Regions from separate parts of the Homo sapiens genome. Here region 1 is reported to be linked to region 2. Evidence: microRNA targets listed by miRTarBase, many of them from high-throughput screens and not tested one by one. Region 2 holds a microRNA gene; the other region holds the end of a gene's coding sequence. Distances are between the middles of the regions.
Evidence for each region. The annotated mature microRNA hsa-miR-6837-5p reads ACCAGGGCCAGCAGGGAAUGU and lies in region 2 at 2,511-2,531, opposite strand. An mRNA with a match to its seed (bases 2 to 7 or 8) in the 3' UTR can be bound and repressed. Matches are read on the target gene's strand: a 7mer-m8 pairs with bases 2 to 8, a 7mer-A1 pairs with bases 2 to 7 and ends in A, and an 8mer does both.

Region 1: miRTarBase lists WIPF3 as a target of hsa-miR-6837-5p. Seed matches in the 3' UTR shown: 7mer-A1 at 1,470-1,476.

Annotation. Positions count from the first base shown.
Region 1 is chr7:29,913,720-29,918,110 of GRCh38, reverse strand. WIPF3 (WAS/WASL interacting protein family member 3) reads right to left here. Exons shown (of 9, transcript NM_001080529.3): 9 at 1,050-3,618. The coding sequence ends at 3,595. Among named protein-coding and RNA genes, the nearest start is that of FKBP14-AS1, 73 kb to the left of the region's middle.
Region 2 is chr7:44,049,911-44,054,301 of GRCh38, reverse strand. It overlaps MIR6837 (microRNA 6837), which reads right to left and starts at 2,536; the gene lies at 2,473-2,536. It overlaps DBNL (drebrin like), which reads right to left. Exons shown (of 13, transcript NM_001014436.3): 2 at 4,022-4,077; 3 at 2,360-2,472; 4 at 1,361-1,435.

The DNA of each region.
Region 1 (4,391 bases), 14 Mb from region 2:
TTACTTTTTCTTCCCCATTCAGACTGGCCCTTTTGGCCATCAAAGAGCCAATCTGTACCTCCACCAATAAGAGAGCAATAAAACGGCCCCTTAACTAATTCTGATGCAAAGTGTGTAGTAACCAGCTTTGAAATTAGTTTCTAGATGAGATTTATTTCAGGAACATCTATGAATTTTAATGACTGCTCTCTCATTGTTATCCAGCAGCAGAGTTAGTGAAGTGTGGTCTGAGTAGCTCAGCAAATACTGAATGAAGTGCCTGGGATGCAGCCAGCAGAGCCCTGTTTGTGCCCAAGCATGGAACCAGCAAACTGGCTGCTCCCCGGGGTGCAGGGTGTGCATCACTGGCTCCGTTGTGATCCAAGGGTTGAGGGCTTGCCCATGTGTATTACATCATTGAATCTTCACCAATATACACTCGGGTACATATTTATGTCCCCTTTTGACAAATGAGGAAGCTGAGGCACAGATTGTAAGAGGCAACTTGTAAGAGGCAAAATGGAGATTCAGATCCTGGTTTGCCTTCTAAGCACTAGCTCTGAGATAGCTTGCCTAGCAGATAAATCTCACCTCCCCTGAACCCTGTTCCCAAAGGTCCACCTTAAAATACTACAGGGGGATTCAAGATGATTCTGTTCCTACAGGAGGCTTTTTTGGGGGGTTTGCTGAGTTGGGAGTGGGGACTAAGTGCACGTAGAGGGAAGGTTGTTCTATTTCAACACAATTTAGCAGAATTTATAAGCAATACACTGCCCATTCTGTGTTAATCAAACTGAATAAATATAGTGTTATCTACTTTTTAAAAAATGCACCTGAGAAATTTTTTTTTTCTTGCTTGTTTTTTCCAAATACCAATTAGGCTAGTTAGCTCAAGAAAGAAAGGCCCTGTTTCTAACACAGTATGTTACAGCAAGCACCGTATCCATGTAAATATCTATTTTTTTTCTATCATTCTTAGAACTTCAACTTCTCCTGATCCTTAAAAATGTTTGGTTTAGATTGATACTGGTGACCACCGATGGGTTTTAACAAGGAAACGACTGGAAGCATTTCCACTTACTAAAGTTTATTAAGTACAAAGAAATGAATCTGCGGAAGGAGACATCAATAAATATAAAATACACGTGAAACATTGGAGGAGTCACAGACTGCAGTGTCAGTGAGAATATGTGACAATGGCGGGGACTGTGTGACTCAGATGTCTCTAAGTCTGAGTTTACAGTCAAGGGGTTAAACCTTTACAGCGCCCAAGGGACTCAGTGCACCAGCATGAGCTCGAAGGGTTGTGAATTCAGTGATAGGTCTCAAGGGGAGATGGGATGCCACATTCCTGAGATTTCTCCCTAATTGCCATTTTTGGTTTCTGCTCCTTCCTCCCCTCTGTCCTTTTTTTTTTTTGAGTTAGGGTCTCGCTCTGTTGCCCAGGCTAGAGTGCAGTGGTGCCATCTCAGCTCACTGCAACCTCCACCTCCAGGGTTCAAGCAATTCTTGTGCCTGAACCTCCCAAGTTGCTGGGATTACAGGTGTGAGCCACCATGCCTGGCTAATTTTTTGTATTTGAGTAGACAGGGTTTCACCATGTTGGCCAGGCTGGTCTTGAACTCCTAACCTCAAGTAATCCACCCACCTCAGCCTCCCATGCTGGGATTACCTGCATGAGCCACTGCTCCTGGCCCGCTCTGTCCTTAAATAGTGTTATTTTAATTTCCATCCCAGCCATAGGAGACACGAATGTCTAAACACCTCATTAGGGCAGGCAGTCTACTCTGAAGGTGGAATTGCCTTTGTCTAGGGTCTTCTTAATCAGGATCATTAAAACTTCTATAATTATTTTACACAACTGTGAGGGCAGTGGAGTGGACACTGTTATAATAATAAATTCTGGCTTTTTGGAAATCTTCCAGAACCAATAAAACAAATTAGTTATGCCCAGAGCTGATGACCTGCAAAAACTTCTACTTATTTAGCTGTTACAGTTTGGGCTTGATTCATTCCCCTGGAGAAGGGAATTTGACCCTGGCTCACTTGCTTCCATCTGGAATGAGAAAGCACAGCACTGCTGCAGGACACCACCTGAGTCGTTACTCCAGACAACAGTGAGGCAGATGCAGTCATGTTTGCCCACACCCTCCTGACCGGCTGCCTTTCTGGATGGCTTGGTCTGTTCATGATATACTTCAGGGGTGAATGTGTGCGTGGGTTGTTGCAAAGCAAATTTCTTTTTCGCTGGTTTCCCTCCCCTCCCTGCCTGATTTCCTTTAAAGGGCAGCTATTTTGAGCACAGCCCAGGGATCAGTCTGTTTCCTTCTATTTTTTCTCCTTCCTCTGTCACAGTCTTCCCCGACCAAAGATGGGGAACATCAGGGGTCAGGCAGCAAGCAAAAACACATTTCCACTCCCTACAGGATCAAGAAGAGGGAGTGAAGAGCAGGACCAGCCCGGCCTGACCTTTTCCATATTCAGAGTGGCTGAGCTTGCACACATCTCCCCACAGACAGGTGCCCACCACAAGGGAATGAATGTGGAGTTGTCAGGCAAGGTTCTCCTTTAGCTCAGAAGGGAGCTAGGTTTTGCCTGACGGGTGGCTCCAAGGATCCTAAGATGGGGGCAGTGAGGCACTAGGTATTTGTGGCAGGTATTTCACACGATGTTTCGTTCTACACTTTTTCATGTCATATTTTCCATGGAAGTCCACACTCGAAGCAAGGGCAGAAGGGGAGACCTCTGAGATACAACTGGTAGTTTAGCATAATGATGAGTTGTGTATGTTTTTAATCTGTAGGGAAGAAATACCAAAATCTCATAAAGCTGGCTACTGGGATGGGACTGGGAACTTGGAGGGAACAGGATGAAAGTGACAGAGACTTGGGCACGAGGGACACTGTAAACAGTAGGAGCACTGGCTACTTGGAGGATTATTCAGTTACAAAAGGGGCCCTGTGGTTGGCATCGGAGGGCCAAGCCCACTCTTGCCTTTACTTTGTGATGTATTACATTAGGCAGCAAAAAAAAAAAAAAAAAAAAAAAAAAAAATTCCCTGTACTGCAAAATGGAAGCGAGACATGGCACCTCGTTCCCTGGAGGCTGCGCGGCACTGTCTGGGTGTGGGGGACACGCTACTTCCTCTGAGCTGCATCATTGATAAGGCATTATTTGGTTTGATTTTGCAGTTAGTGTGATGAGAATATGAAATTATGCCAATAAGAAGCCGTTGTGGATATTTATAACTTTGGGGCTACCTGCAAACTAAGGACTCTCTACAAACGGTTCAGAATCTAGGAAGGGCCAGCCTGCAAGCAGATTCACAGTCATGGAGTGGGCACTAGGTGGAGGGACAGGGCTCTATCTGTGCTGACAAATGCCAAGATGCAATGCAAAAAATGGAAAAATGAGGGGTGTTTTAAAAAATATTACCGAAATAAAAGTCAATTAAAATACTGCTTTAAAGCCCGTGCAAATCACATATTTACAATAAATAAATTCTCAATTCCAAGCCTGTATGCCAACTGAATTACAGCTTGAGCATGGGGTGGGTGGGGTCTGACATGTTGTTCTGCAACCTGGAACCCCAGGACCTTCGCTTCATCTGTCTTCTCACCGAAGAGTCTTTAGAGATAACTGTGGAAACATAACAGAACATTACCAGGTGGAGTTAGAAGACTCTTGCACATGAAAGCCTTCCTCCTCCACCCCCCCAAACAGGCTGGGCCCCGAAGCTTCTCATTCATGCAAGGCTGTCAAGTTTGGGGAGATGCCTATGCAAAGAGCTGACTTTTACCCAAGGGGCTGTGGGTGGAAACCAGATGAAATGGGGTATGTAGTTGATGGTATGTGAGGACCTAATACTGTCTTATAAACATTTATAGAACCAATCATCAGCAATTCACTTGACAGGAAGCTCAGAGAAATAAAAAAAACGTGCTGGAGACCCCAAGTTAAGGCAGTGGAAAAGCAAGAAACCGATTTAGGCATTCAGACTTCCAGCCCAGGGCTCCCACCCCATGCACTGACCACTCTAGCCATAAAAAAGAGCAGTCCCTGGGGTATTGTTTGCAATGTCTAGAACCCAGTGATTTCTCAATTGTTTTGTGTCTCACTGCAGTGAGAATTAAGATGGTATCCAGTGAGATACAAAGATCTTCTTGACTGTGGAATGCCCAAAGGAGACTACAATCCACTTTGAGTAGACTTGCAGGCGGAGATCAAAACCACCAGACTCAGGTGATCTGGGTGCATGCCTGCCGTGAGGCTGGAGACCAGATCCTGCACAGTGTGTGACACGTTGGTAGTGAGGAGGATTCTTGTCCCTGGAGATTCTAACATGCCAGGAAAAGCAGTGAGGCATTATGGAAGAAGCACTGAACAAGAGGTCAGAAGGTTTGGGCATTGTG
Region 2 (4,391 bases):
AAAATCACTTGAACCTGGGAGGCAGAGGTTGCAGTGAGCCGAGATCGTGCCACTGCGTTCCAGCCTGGGTGACAGAGTGAGACTGTCTCAAAACAAACAAACAAACAAAAAACAAAACAATTAAAAAAAACTCTGATAAAAGAATGCCATGCATGTTTTCTACAAAAAGTAAGCCAATGATTTCTTCATAAGAAGCCAGACCCATGACGTCATTCACTGTTGCTATACAGGTTGAGCATCCCTTACCTAAAATTCCAAAATCTGAACTGCTCCAATGAACATTTCCTTTAAGCATTATGTCAGCACTCAAAAAATCTCAGATTCTGGGCTGGGCGTGGTGGTTCACGCCTGTAATCCTAGCACTTTGGGAGGCCAAGGCGGGCAAATCACGAGGTCAGGAGATCGAGACCATCCTGGCTAACACAGTGAAACCCCGTCTCTACTAAAAATACAAAAAATTAGCTGGGCGTGGTGGCGGGTGCCTGCAGTCCCAGCTAATCGGGAGGCTGAGGCAGAAGAATGGTGTGAACCCGGGAGGCGGAGCTTGCAGTGAGCCAAGATCACGCCACTGCACTCCAGCCTGGGCAACGGAGCGAGACTCAGTCTCAAAAAAAAAAAAAAAAAATTCAGATTCTGGAGAATTTCGGATTTTGGATGCTGAACTGAAAACATTCCCAAATCTGAAAAAATCCAAAACATTTCTGGTCCTAAGCATTTCAGATAAAGGATACTCAAACCTGTATATCGATAAGCTGGGAATTCTCTTATCAGCTCCTAGATGGAAACTGAGGTATAGCTGAAGAAATGTTGGCAGAACGAGAAATCAAAATTCTGAGTCTCCTTTGCCAGAGAAATGCAAAAAGTTACCTGACAAGTGACCAACAAATGCTTTTGTTACAAATAGTTTTTAAAATTTAAAAAGGTTCTATTATAGGACTGACATAACTCCATGTAGAGGGGGCTGGAAAGGAATGCATCAAAAGGGCACATGCGTGCTAAGATGGTGGGCACTCTCCCCTTCCTCCAAATCCTGACGGTATTACTAAACTGTTTAGAGGGATCATAAAACAAAACAGAACCAGGGCCCACCCTTCTCACGGCACCAGCTCCAGCATAGTCCTTTATCCTGCCCCACTGAGGCAGGCCTGTAGGTGGCCCTGGCAACATCCTGACCTCCCATGCACTCACTGACCGAGAGTGAAGCAGCCTCTGGTCATGCCCTCAAAGGCAGGCAGAGAGCATTAGCTATGAGCACACTCCCAACTCCAGTTCTGATTCCCACTTGCTCGCACCCAGGAACCTGCGAGACCTCAAGCCTGTGAGGCCTGTTCCCAGTGAAGCGGGCCTCACCTGGCCTTACCTTCAGGAAGCTGGCCATGGTGCTGACGTGGCTGGCACAGGCTCCCTTCCGCACATCGTTCACGCCCTCGCCTGTCTGCAACACAAGGATGCCCAGGTTGACCCAGGCCTCCCCCAAAGCCACTTCCCTTCCCTGGGGACCCAACATCTACCCTGTGTCCCAGAAAAGAGAAAACTGCAACCCCCAAAGCAGAACCTATTCTTCTGACTGCATCACATGGGTGAGGTAAGTTCCCATGCCTCCAAGGGGCTCATGGATTCTCCCTGGGCAGGATGGCTACCGGCTTTCGCTGTGGGGGCATTTCATGAATTTTCTTTTTTTTTTTTTTTTTGGAGATGGAGTCTTGCTCTGTGGCCCAGGCTGGAGTACAGTGGCGCAATCTTGGCTCACTGCAACTTCTGCCTCCTGGGTTCAAGCAATTCTCTTGCCTCAGCCTCCTGAGTAGCTGGGACTACAGGTGCACGCTGCCATGCCCAGCTAATTTTTTGTATTTTAGTAGAGATGGGGTTTCACCATGTTGCCCAGGCTGGTCTCAAACTCCTGAGCTCAGGCAGTCCACCCACCTCGGCCTCCCAAAGTTCTAGGATGACAGGTGTGAGCCACCCCACCCAGCCTTCAAGAGTTTTCTTGATCCCCACCAAGGGATCAAGGAGGCCCTGTCCCTGTACTCCCAGGCTCCTAAACACTCCCTCAGGCTCTCTACTCCATCAGAACAACCACCCTCAAGAGCACGGAGCAAGGACTCCCTGTGACTGCTTTTAATCCATTTTGCAGGAAGAACTCTAGGCTTGGAAGGTGAATTCTGCATAGCAAAGCCACAGTTATTCTTTGGGCCACAATGAATCTGTCAACTATTCTGCTCATTCACCAGCTCAGAGCTGTTCTATTGATCTACTAAGTCATGCCAGTAAAACACTTTGTTCCTGAAGTCAAGTCAAAACAGGAAAGAAGACAATGGGGTTTCCTGGGTCACACCTAGATGAAACAGGCTCCACATACCCAGTTGATGAGGACAAATTTGGGCAGTCCAGAGTTGGGGTCCTTCACTCTGCAGAAGGCGTACATCACCTTCCCGCTGTTGAGCTCCTCCACCATCTCCTCCAGGCCACCCTCTGCAGCAGAGTCACAGTGAAGGTCAGGGGTGGCCCTGACATTCCCTGCTGGCCCTGGTCCCACCATGAAGGGAGGCCGAGCTGCTTCTAAACCAGGGCTTCTCACCTCTACCTGTATCAGAATCTTTCTAGGGGTATGTTTAAAATCAGAGTCCTGGGCACCACCCTCACTAAACTGATTGATGAGAGCTGGGTGGGACCTAGAAGTCTGCGATTCTGACAAGTACCTCAGGTAATTTTTTTTACCCACACTCGTTTAAAAACCACTTCTCTAAACCCAGAGGTAATTCTGGAAATAAAAACAGGGTCATTTCCACGGCAAACCAGCCACCAGACTTCCAAATGGAGGATGGCTACGTCAAAATTTTATTGTTGCCACAACGTTGCAAAAGGGCCCGGAATAGCAGGGCCTGTAGAGTCACCACTGCCTGCACCTGTGTCTGCTCAAGTTCCAGGGCCACCCAGACGGCCAGACCAGATTGAACATCCTGCAGTGGCGTAACTGGCTCAGTCCTCAGACTCCAGAAGAGAGGGTGATGGGGACAGGGGGAGCACAGGAGTGGGCAGCTCTAAACAATTCTCCCTGACACTGAGGCTTAGCCCTCACAAACTTTTCCAGGTTATAAGGAGGAAGAGCTGATCAGGTATTTCATCTACAGGGCTCCGTATGAGTGGAGGCAGTCATGAGCCCCACTCTGGGGACAGCAAATTGTTGCATTTGTGGCAGAGCCCTGTCCTGTGCCACTGGGGATGACAGGAAACTCTCAAGTTGTTGATCTCTGCAACTCCCAGTCACCTGCCACACCACATGTCTACTGTTCAATGGCAATCCTTCTAGAAAGGGGACACCTCCCAGAAAGATTGTGAAAGGAAGGGGCTTTCTACCAACAACAGACATCAAACCGTGGAGAACCACTCCGAGTGTTCATTGAACAATGAAGCCATGTCCAGCTCAGGACAGAGGGAGGGGTCAGGCAACTTCTGGAGGAGGAGCAGTCACGGGTGTCAGCTGAGGGGCCCACAGGTCACACTCTGACGAAGCCTACCCTGACAACCTCTGCTCTGTGCTGGCCAAGAGCCTGTCCTTCCTGTAGAGACCTCCAGAGCCTCCCCCGTGACTATCTGCAGTGATACTGCCTCTCCCAGTGAGGATGGGGCCCCTGCAAGCACTCGGCACAAGACCAGGGCAGGACAAAGGGAGAAGAAGATATGTCTGTGGACTTTCTTTCCACCAGCACCAGTTCTGGGACTGGTGAGCTTCCCACCGCAGCTCCCAACGCAGGCTGCCCACAAGCTGGAGAGGCCTGTTTCCCTCTCAGCTCTCCCCAAGTAGACAAAGAGAAAGCACTCCCCTGCACCCAGAGGGAAGGAGAACCAAGGAGGAATGTTTTCACTTACACATATCTGAAACCTAAGGCCTGCCAGAAGTGGCCAGTGAGCACTGGAAGCCCCATGTGGCTCAGTGGACCAAGACAGCTGAGTGCGCTGACCCCTCGTCGTCACCCTCCTACCTCCTGGTGTCCCTGAGTCCATTTGGAGTCATACTCACCCCCTGTGCCAGCCACGCGGATGTCATTGCTGTTGCCTTCATAGGTAAAGAGAGCCCTGAAACGAAACACAAGTGAGCTCTGTAGCCAGCACCTTGGGTTCCATCTCTCCTCACCGTATCCACCATGACTTTCCACTACATCCCAAAGAGCTTGGGCTGACAGTAACACTGTGGGTGGGCACAGGCCCGTTCTCACTTTGCTCTGACCCACTAGGCAGGTTCTCAGTAGGCAACTGTGCAGCCTTCTCAGCTCTGCAGCTGGGAGGACACTGGCCTGACTTACCATGGGGTGGGGGTTGTGAGGGACAAAGCCATGGAGATGGGAGCACACATCTACTATGAGGAAAACATGAGCTGTGGAGTTTCCCAA